3 linked regions of the Homo sapiens genome follow. The protein of the gene in region 1 interacts with the protein of each later gene in a pairwise test. Each region holds a gene or a part of one and is shown in the gene's direction. Other genes may lie near its edges.

The links.
Region 2: the proteins of ITSN2 (region 1) and CPSF6 interact in a two-hybrid assay, tested with the Homo sapiens proteins (one large-scale study listed by BioGRID).
Region 3: the proteins of ITSN2 (region 1) and PTN interact in a two-hybrid assay, tested with the Homo sapiens proteins (one large-scale study listed by BioGRID and IntAct).

What each region holds. Positions count from the first base shown.
Region 1 is NC_000002.12:24,294,411-24,298,067, reverse strand, and holds part of ITSN2 (intersectin-2), read left to right. Parts: intron 1-2,263; coding exon 2,264-2,404; intron 2,405-3,657.
Region 2 is NC_000012.12:69,256,538-69,260,194, forward strand, and holds part of CPSF6 (cleavage and polyadenylation specificity factor subunit 6), read left to right. Parts: intron 1-159; coding exon 160-305; intron 306-1,194; coding exon 1,195-1,368; intron 1,369-1,497; coding exon of another isoform or gene 1,498-1,608; intron 1,609-2,052; coding exon 2,053-2,557; intron 2,558-2,890; coding exon 2,891-3,006; intron 3,007-3,506; coding exon 3,507-3,657. UniProt on the Homo sapiens protein: Component of the cleavage factor Im (CFIm) complex that functions as an activator of the pre-mRNA 3'-end cleavage and polyadenylation processing required for the maturation of pre-mRNA into functional mRNAs.
Region 3 is NC_000007.14:137,253,132-137,256,788, reverse strand, and holds part of PTN (pleiotrophin isoform 1 precursor), read left to right. Parts: intron 1-1,814; 5' UTR 1,815-1,815; coding exon 1,816-1,930; intron 1,931-3,151; coding exon 3,152-3,325; intron 3,326-3,657.

The sequences.
Region 1 (3,657 bases):
GGTTGCAGTGAGCCAAGATCGCACCACTGCACTCCAGCCTAGGTAACAGAGTGAGACGCCATCTCAAAAAAAAAAAAAAGAAAAATGTAATTGTGTTTTAAAATCTCTCGTGAATTAGTTATGTCTTAATGTCATTAGTCACATTTTCATATAAACAGACTGTACAATATGGTTTACTGAGAAAAGGATAATGACTCAAAATGCTGAGAATTATGTTGTAGCATCAGTTCAGACACTGATGAACCATGTACTCCTGGGCAAGACATTTCCCTTCTCTGTGCCTCACTTTTCCCTTGTCTGAAATAAAGAGTTGTGTTAGTTGAGTGATTTTCAGTTTTCAGATTGGTCTCTGTAAGATGGTCTGAGGAGGACTAAGCAGAGGCAGGAGAGGGGAAGCTCGGGCAGCAGAACAGTGATTTTCTCTCCCTAATTCTTCCCACGCTTCACAACAGAGAAGCTTGACATTTATGTGCTTTATGTTTCTTGGGGTTTCACTCAAGATTTGCTTGGAAAAAAAAAGATTCTACTATTAAAAAGACAACTGATTTGAAACTGCTGACCTAAATGATCTCTTACAGTTCCAGTTCTGCAGGATTGTAGTTCTTAGCTAATACTGGCCACTAAGCAGTTTTTACCAATCAGATGTTAGAGGGTCAAGTTGTTAAAAGACTTTGTTTGAAATGTGTGGTGAGAAGGTATAAAAGATCTGGCACTATTCTGCCACAACCCTAGAATCCCATGAGCCTACCCTGATCATATAGTAGGGTTTTACAAAAATGCATACCTAGTCATGTAGTAGAGCCAGATTTAGATCTTGTGTGATCATAGTCTAACATTTTATTTGGTTGATGACTTGAATTACATTAAAAATTATTTTTTTAATCATCACAATATCTTTAGTCAGAAATATATTATTTTATTCCTTCAAATGGATAGACATACATACCACAAGTATTAATCATGCCAGAGTACTACAAAACAGTTGTAAAAAACTTTTAACTCTCTTGCACTATTTTTATATATATATATCATCTTGACTATATATAATGGGAAGAGACCTTAAGATTGATTGTTTTTCCCTCAAGAACTGGTGCAACACATGAAGCACAGTAACACAGGTGAATGTGCAGAGTCTGGAAAGGTCCAGAGCCTATACGTATCCCATGTTGAGGATAAGAATGTGAGCTCCAGCAGAGATACACATGTTCCTTTCAGTGTATGTATTTCAAATATGAAACAGTCTTCAGTAAAACTTTTCATCATCAGTAAGTTTTAACCCAGGATGTCATTTCCCCTCACTCCACTGTATTAGTTTGGTAGGGCTGCTGTAACAAAATACGATAGGCTAGGTGGCTTAAACAACAGAAATTAATTTTTTCACAGCTCCTAAGATCTAAGACCAAGGTTAGTTAGGCTTAGTTTCTTGTGAGGCCTCTTTTGGTGGCTTGCAGGTGGCCATCTTTCATTGTGTCCTTATATGGTGTTTTCTCTGAGTGTATTTTATCTCTGGTGCCTTTTGTGTTCAGATTTCCACCTCTAATAAGGACACCAGTTAGATTGGATTAGGGTCCACCTGTATGACTTTGTTTAACCTTAATCACCTCTTTAAAGGCCCTGTCTCCAAATATTGTCACATTCTGAGGTACTGGGGCTTGGGACTTTAACATATGAATTTTGGGGGACACAGTTCAGCCCATAACCCCCCATGTCACCCTTCTTCTTAGGTCCCATTGAGAATCTCTGCTATTTGTTTGATTTCTTCACAGAAGAAGAGGAAAAAAGGAGAAGAATATTAGTATAGAACAGAACTGTTGCCAAAACGTTCCTCCTGGGCACTGTTTTAATTAGAGGAAATTAGATGGCCATATTTAGGGTAGAAATAGAAGTTCAGAGAAGGTAATGCCGAGCATCACATGCAAACATTTATTCCTCTTCATCATTCTTTGAGAGTGTCTCTGATATTAATATTGTTAATTAATATTGTCTAATGCTGAATTCAGAAAAAAATTCAATGTGTTATGTTTCTGCTTTCCCATACTAACATATGGGCTCTTGCACTCTGAGAATGATGTGTTTCCCACTAATAACTCGAGTTAACAGACACAACTCTGAAACACATTCCACTTGGTTTTAGGCATTTGTTTCAGGATGAATATGAATGATAACTGAGATTTTAAAATTTAACTAAAAATATTATTCTCCTTGTAGAAACATTTTCTATTAGCATTTTATGTTACTATATATTTATATGATCTTCCTATAGAATGGCAAACATCAGCAGATCTCAGGCAGACTTCAGGATGTCCGACTCAAAAAGCAAACTCAAAAGACTGAGCTGGAAGTTCTGGATAAGCAGTGTGACTTGGAAATTATGGAAATCAAGCAACTTCAACAGGAACTTCAGGTAAGTCCTTCACTGCTAAATTGTTCTTAAACATGTACAATTAATAGTTCTTCTGGGCTGGGCACGGTGGCTCACGGCTGTAATGCTAGCACTTTGGGAGGCTGAGGCGGGTGGATCCCCTGAGGTCAGGAGTTCGAGACCAGCCCAGTCAGCAGGGCAAAACCCCGTCTCTACTAAAAATACAAAAAAATTAGCTGGGTATGGTGGCGCATGCCTGTAATCCCAGCAACTCGGGAGGCTGAGGCAGGAGAATCGCTTGATTCCGGGAGGCAGAGGTTGCAGTGAACCCAGATCGCACCACTGTACTCCAGCATGGATGATAGAGCGAGATTCCATCTCAAAACAAAACAAAACGAAACAGTTCTTCTAATAGAGTTTTGTTTTGGGGGTCAATAACCTTGAGTCTTTGATAGGCTTGTGATCTAAATACACGCAATCCTGTATACAATATCAGGAAGTCCATAGACCTACTAAAACTCTGCTAGACGTCTGGTTAAGTTTTGCTTAATATATATACGTAAGTGGACATTTATCACTTTGAGTTTTAACTCTTTAACAATGTTTATGCATTCTTAATTCATTACTTGCTATAACAAACGACCTTAGACTGGGTAATTTATAAACAACAGAAATTTATTACTCATAGTTCTAGAGACTGAGAAGTCCAAGATCAAGGTGTTAGCAGATTCAGTGTCCGATGAGGGCTTGCTGTCTCCTTTAAAACTAGTGCCTTCTTGCTGCGTCTTCACATGCAGAAAGGGTAAGGCAGTCCCTTCAACTTCCTTTATAAGGACAGTCATCTCATTCATGAGTGTGGAGCCTCCTAAAGCCCTACTTCTTAATAGTACTGCATTGGGAGTTAGGTTCCAACATATGAATGTTGGGGACATACCAACATTCAGACCATATCATACATTAAAATAAGGTTATTGCTACTAATTTTAGGAAATTTTGACTTAAAGTTATTCTTTTTAAAATTATGATGAGAACTTGAATATGTCCCTTGGGGTCCTGGTAATTCTCTTCCTTACTTGTGCAGTAGGGTCTGGTTCAATAATTACTATTTGCAGAATGGGGCTGTGGAAGCATTCTGCATCTCTAGAGTTCTCTTACCCAATTTCTCTTACTGCATGGACTGGCAATTAATCAGTCTTTTTGCTTTGTTACAGGAGAGATAAACAAAAGCCAAAAATATTTTCTGTCTGATTTAAACCTGCTTTCCTAGTTTTTAGTCCTTTTTATTTTTTCCTCCC
Region 2 (3,657 bases), on another chromosome or scaffold:
CGTGCCTCAACCTTCTAAGCAGCTGGGATTACAGGCATGAGCCACTGTGCCCAGCTGTTGTTTTAGATAAAAGCAGATTAAGACCTTTTTACAGAAGAATAACAGTAATAATATTGATCTCTTTTTACTTTGTATCCTCACCCCTTAAACACTTTTTAGGTTTGCCCTTGTTGGTGTTGGATCTGAAGCATCTTCAAAAAAGTTAATGGATCTGTTACCTAAAAGAGAACTTCATGGTCAGAATCCTGTTGTAACTCCATGCAATAAACAGTTCCTGAGTCAATTTGAAATGCAGTCCAGGAAAAGTAAGCAGTCCTCAGAGGCTTTTATTAAAATATGTACATTTTAACCAGTGCATTTGTTAGGTGTTATACTAGAGAAGTCATCTTAATACTAGCTCACTAGGAACTCCATTTCACAAAGTCCATGCTTTGAATTAGATTTAATCACTGGTTATGACTGTGGGCCTGTGTACGAGAAACCTACTCCTGTTCCATTTTTCTCCAGATGTAACAGACCCAATACTATACAACAATGTGCAAGTTCTATAGCCCTGCCATTCTTGTCCTATTATTTCCATCTTAGATACAGAAAGAAACTACATTCTAATTCTTAGATTAAAGGAGAGCTATGTGGATGTGTATTATGGTGGGGGAGAGATCACTGATAACCAGAAAATGTTCATTGATTTTTCTGCTTGGCAACAAGACCTTTCACCACTTGGTAAACTGAATATAGAAAAGATTTGTCATTATACATTTAAGTACATTATCTTTAAAGAGATGAGATGGATGATTATGTAATTAACAGAAATTCAAGTGGTTCCTTTTCTTTTAATGTTTTAGCACTTAAGACTTAACTGAAGAAGTGTGTTACAAAATTTAAATGATGTAATACTGAAATTAAGATATCTGTTGAAGAATTTCGGTCTTGGCTGCTGCAGAGTGCTGGTATTTTGAAAGTAACTCACGATTACCTATGGAAAATATATTTAAACCTGGATATTTTGAGTCTTTAAAAGTACCCAAATAGATGTGAATGTTTTCCTAAACCATACTTTCTTATGTAGTTTGCATAGGCACAAGGCATTTGCAAGTTAATATATTAGAAATAGAGTTGTTTTTAATAATAGTGGTTACATTTCAGAAAACTATTTTTAATAAGTGCTATTTATGAGTATTTGGATATTTGCAGCTACACAATCAGGACAAATGTCTGGGGAAGGTAAAGCTGGTCCTCCAGGAGGCAGTTCCCGTGCAGCATTTCCACAAGGTGGTAGAGGACGGGGCCGTTTTCCAGGGGCTGTTCCTGGTGGGGACAGATTTCCTGGGCCAGCAGGACCAGGAGGGCCACCCCCACCTTTTCCAGGTAAAACTTTTCTTAAATTACCATGGATAAAACATGTCTACCTAATACCTCTTTTCCTTTTCTCTCTTTTTCAAGTAATGCATTATTAATGTGACTTACTCTCCTTGTTATGCTATTTTTGGAATCCAGGAAATTTGATCAAGCATCTTGTTAAAGGAACTCGGCCTTTGTTCCTGGAAACTAGGATTCCATGGCATATGGGGCACAGCATAGAGGAAATACCCATTTTTGGCCTAAAAGGTCTTTATTTTTCTCCAAACTTGCTTGACTTATATATAGAATATTTACATCCGTCTTACTTTCTTACCTCTTAAAAAAATCCTTTCAAGATCATTTTTCCTTGTTTCACTTTCTAGCTTGGCATCAGAGTAGAATATAAGGTGGGTGATTTCACTGTAAGAAGTGTGTGTACACGGAAAGATGGAAAATATCTCTAGGCATTGTAATATTTTTTTATTAAAGTTTTCGTTTCAATAATTTTTCTTAAGCATAAATTGAGCTAGTTAAATTTGTAAGGATATACTTCATTGTAGTTGGTAGTGTAACATTTACCATACGGGTTTAATTTAAAGACAAAGACTTGGTGTATGCTCTATGCGTTTAAAGTATAATCTTGGCATATAAAAGTTAAAATATCTTATTAGTGAAGTGTTTTTTTTTCTCTCTTTCTCCTTTGTTTTTTAGCTGGACAGACTCCACCACGTCCACCCTTAGGTCCTCCAGGCCCACCTGGTCCACCAGGTCCTCCACCTCCTGGTCAGGTTCTGCCTCCTCCTCTAGCTGGGCCTCCTAATCGAGGAGATCGCCCTCCACCACCAGTTCTTTTTCCTGGACAACCTTTTGGGCAGCCTCCATTGGGTCCACTTCCTCCTGGCCCTCCACCTCCAGTTCCAGGCTACGGCCCCCCTCCTGGCCCACCACCTCCACAACAGGGACCACCTCCACCTCCAGGCCCCTTTCCACCTCGTCCACCCGGTCCACTTGGGCCACCCCTTACACTAGCTCCTCCTCCGCATCTTCCTGGACCACCTCCAGGTGCCCCACCGCCAGCTCCGCATGTGAACCCAGCTTTCTTTCCTCCACCAACTAACAGTGGCATGCCTACATCAGATAGCCGAGGTCCACCACCAACAGATCCATATGGGCGACCTCCACCATATGATAGGGGTGACTATGGCCCCCCTGGAAGGTAAGTTAGTGTGTATCTGTGAAAGTACTTGATGATAAAAGATAGGAACAATGACTGTAAATATTAGATTGTAGGTATATAAATATGTTATTTCTGCCTTCCAAGAAGATGAGGTGTTTAAGCTGCTACCCTGTTTTAGCTGAAAGATACTGGTATAGGAGAATTTTTAGATTTGTTCTCTTTGTTGGAAAAGTAGCATGCTTCAATATGGAAAAGTAACTACTATCTCTAAAGCACATGTCAGAAGCAGCTAGTATGAATTGCTATACACTGTTGTGACTAACTGAGGAAATCTGTTGAGTATGAGTTAAGGTTTATGTTTTTGTTTTACAGGGAAATGGATACTGCAAGAACGCCATTGAGTGAAGCTGAATTTGAAGAAATCATGAATAGAAATAGGGCAATCTCAAGCAGTGCTATTTCGAGAGCTGTGTCTGATGCCAGTGCTGGTTTGTGTATTTCTTGTATTAATATTTCTTATTTATGTTATTAGGAATGACCTAAAAATGTAAGTACAATCTAGAAGATAGGTCATTTACATGTAGTAGTTCTTTTTATATTCCCAAATCATTACCTACGATTTATTTAAAAAGCATTGAAAAAAGTTGTGTGTCACAGTGTAGTGGGGAAAATCCAAATTTTAAGTTATTTGGTATAGATTTAAGTCTTACCCTTGACATTTAATGGTTCAGGGGCCTCATGACACCTTATTTATTCTTATATTTGCAAAATGATAATGTGCTTCACACACGTATAATAAGTTGAGTCAATATCATGAGCATGAAAGGCTTTTGCAAATGGTGAAACACTGAAAGAAGACATTGTCTTGCATAGTTATTTTATAGCACAGTACTTTTGTAAAATGCCTTATCACTCTTATCCCAAGTGGTTTGATGGTGTTTTGAAAACAAAATTTGTTTGACTTCAAACCCTTTCCTTTCCCTCACAGGTGATTATGGGAGTGCTATTGAGACACTGGTAACTGCAATTTCTTTAATTAAACAATCCAAAGTATCTGCTGATGATCGTTGCAAAGTTCTTATTAGTTCTTTGCAAGATTGCCTTCATGGAATTGAGTCCAAGTCTTATGGTTCTGGATC
Region 3 (3,657 bases), on another chromosome or scaffold:
AAGTTCCTTGTAAATTCTGGAAATTAGTTCAACCATTGTGGAAAACGGTGTGGTGATTCCTTGAGGATCTAGAACCAGAAATACCATTTGATCCAGCCATCCCATTACTGAGTATATACCCAAAGGAATATGAATTATTTTAATATAAAGACACAGGCACACATAGGTTTATTGCAGCACTATTACATAGCAAAGCCATTGAACCAACCCAAAAGCTTATCAATGATAGACTGGATAAAGAAAATTTGGTACATATATACAATGGAATACTAGGCAACCATAACAAGGAATGAGATCATGTCCTTTGCAGGGACATGAGTGAAGCTGGAGGCCATCATCCACAGCAAACTAACACAGGAACAGGAAACCAAACACCGCATGTTCTCACTCATAACTGGGAGTTGAACATTGAGAAGACATGGACACAGGGAGGGGAACATCACACACCAGGACCTGTTGAGGGGTGTGGGGTAAGGGGAGGGAACTTAGAGGACCAGTCAATAAGTGCAGCAAACCATCATGGCACATGTATACCTGTGTAACAAACCTGCACATTCTGCACATGTATCTTGGAACTTAAAGTAAAATTAAAAATAAATAAATTTAAAAAAACACTAATAAGAGACAGCATATACAATGCCACAGAAAAGGAGAAAAATTCACGGGCAAGGATATCATCTCAGATATTTTTCAATGAGGAAAATAAATTAGAGAAAAGAATAATCTCAACCCCTTATATACATGAAACGTTTTATTGTTCACACTAAAGAGAATGTTGAAACACCTAAACTAATCTAGTACTACCTCTGGAAAAAAAATTATCAGCCTATGATCATAGGACATTACAACCATTTTTATGTGAAGTATAACACACCACTAACACAGCAGATGGAGCTCAATAACTGCCAGGCAAGTTGCTGCAGCCATGATATGGTGTAGCCATTGGGAAGTGGGTCGTCCTGGAGCTTGGACTGAAACTTTCTCAAGGGTGTTTTGGCCAAGTGACCATATTGACACTAGGCTGTCACAGGTGGCTTCAAGTTCTAGGAGAGTCTTTCTAATGATATCTTGGGATTTTTGATTCACATCAAATGTGAGCATTTCCTATTATGAGTGAGTGTAAAGACTTCACCATATCCTAAGATTAGAGGATTTTTAGCACATGCGAATTTATCATTGTGTTTGATATGTATCACAGGTGTGCTAGCTCTACTTCTGGGATTCACTCTTTGTTAGATCAATAAATAATGGAATAATAAGATGATAGTGATGATTATGACAATGATTTTAAAAAGATCAGAGATGTTGGTTGTTGTGTATGCGTCTAAATAGAAACAGTAAACATATACTTGTATAGGTAATTCATTCATCATGTCTACTCAAATTGGTCTTGTGTACAGCAGTATCATTGCTGTGGTTGTTTCTAATATTGTCAGGAATTTTGAAGATGGCTGTAGTTGTCGATATTACCAAGTGATGCTATCAGCAAGACAGTAGGACTGTGTTCAAATGCATGCCTTCAAAGTTCTTTTGCTTCCATAATTTCTGAGTCATACTTAGCAAATGGTTGTGAAGTCTTAAGTGAAGAACTGTTGCGTTTTGTCAGTGAATACGTGATTGATTGCAGAAGAGCACTTATTTCAATGGCTGTTGGTAAGAATAGATAAAATTCTACCCAAGATAATTGATATGAATCTTCCTGAAATCTAACATTCCAGAAATGGAAAGTGGAGCCTTTTCATCAAGGGTTCAATGAATCTTCCTTTCTGACTTAGGTTAATGCCACCTTCTTCTCTTTCTCTGTTTATTCCTAGAATGCAGGCTCAACAGTACCAGCAGCAGCGTCGAAAATTTGCAGCTGCCTTCTTGGCATTCATTTTCATACTGGCAGCTGTGGATACTGCTGAAGCAGGGAAGAAAGAGAAACCAGGTAAGCAGTAGGGTTCTGAAGGCAAGATGCTTCATTGATTAATGTCCATCTAGTCTAATTACCTGCTTTTCCTTCCTCTCTTCTACTCTGCCTCTCTCCCTTCCTATTCCTCTATTCCTTCAATCTTCCCTTTTCAAAAATAATTACTTAGAGGAACCTAAGAAATATCCTGTCTTATTTTTCTCCCATTGTAAGTCTTGGATTGCATGACGATGATGATCATTAATATAATGATCAAATTAGCAGCTACTATGTATAGAACATTGACCGGTAATCAGGTGCTTTATTATTTACCTCTCTACCTCAAAAAAAAAAAAATGCACTGCAACTTGTTTTTCTCCTTAATTTCAGATTTACAGAGGAGGAAACAAGCACAGAGAAGATAAAGCACCTTCTCTATGCCACTCCCAAAGTCATAAGTAGGCTGTGGAACTGACAGTCTGTTTAAATCTGTGATGCACCATATTTGTATGATGTCATTCCTTCTACAAGGCAGAGAAAGGAACAACAACTTACACTGAAATGGCTCATTTGACAACTGTTATTTCTTTTTTTTTTTTTTTGAGTTGGAGTCTCGCTCTGTCACCAGGTTGGAGTGCAGTGGTGCGATCTCAACTCACTGTATCCTCTGTCTCCCGGTTCAAGTGATTCTCCTGCCTCAGCTTCCCGAGTAGCTGGGGCTGCAGGCATGCACCACCACGCCCAGCTAATTTTTGTATTTTTAGTAGAGTTGGGGTTTCACCATGTTAGCCAGGATGGTCTCGATCTTTTGACCTTGTGATCTGCCTGCTTCGACCTCCCAAAGTGCTGGGATTACAGGCATGAGCCACTTTGCCCAGCTGACAACTGTTATTTCTAATAGAATATTTTCTTCATTTTTAGGAGAACTATATTTTTGACCATCTCTTCTTTTATAGAAATGTTTGCTTCTAAAAGGAGATGCCACTAAATCACTTAGCACAGTCTCTGGCACATAGTAAGAGGGAGTTCAATTAATATTAGTTTTAGCTCTTTTCTCAGTTTTCTTTCTCTCTTCTCTTGATCATTCATTGGTTCAATAATTTGGTTAATATTCATCATGTTTCTACTATTCATTAGACAATAAGGATACAGATTAAAAAACACAGATCCTGCAATTAAGGTGCTCAGGAATGAACTTGGTTATATCTGGAAGTTAAGGAGTTTTCTGTATGTTGATTAGGTTTTCCTCCTTTCATTCAGAAAAAAAAGTGAAGAAGTCTGACTGTGGAGAATGGCAGTGGAGTGTGTGTGTGCCCACCAGTGGAGACTGTGGGCTGGGCACACGGGAGGGCACTCGGACTGGAGCTGAGTGCAAGCAAACCATGAAGACCCAGAGATGTAAGATCCCCTGCAACTGGAAGAAGCAATTTGGCGGTAAGCCTCATGCTACTGAGTTAATCTCCTACTCTGAGATAATTCTCAAATTTTTCCACCAAATGTCTTTTTAAGGATAAGTACTTTTTATTTTAAATAACTTTATCTTACCAGACACAAAGTGACCAGACTGGTCCCATTTCAGGCCAGGCAATTATTTGTTGTGGAGGCTGTCTTGTGCATTTTAGGGTATTTAGGAGCATCGCTGGCTTCTACTCGCTAGTTTCCGGTAGCATTCCTCACCCGCTCCAGATGTGAAAACTAAAAATGTCTCCAAATATCTATGGCCAAATGTACCCTGTTGGTCAAAATCATCCCTGGTTGGGAACCAC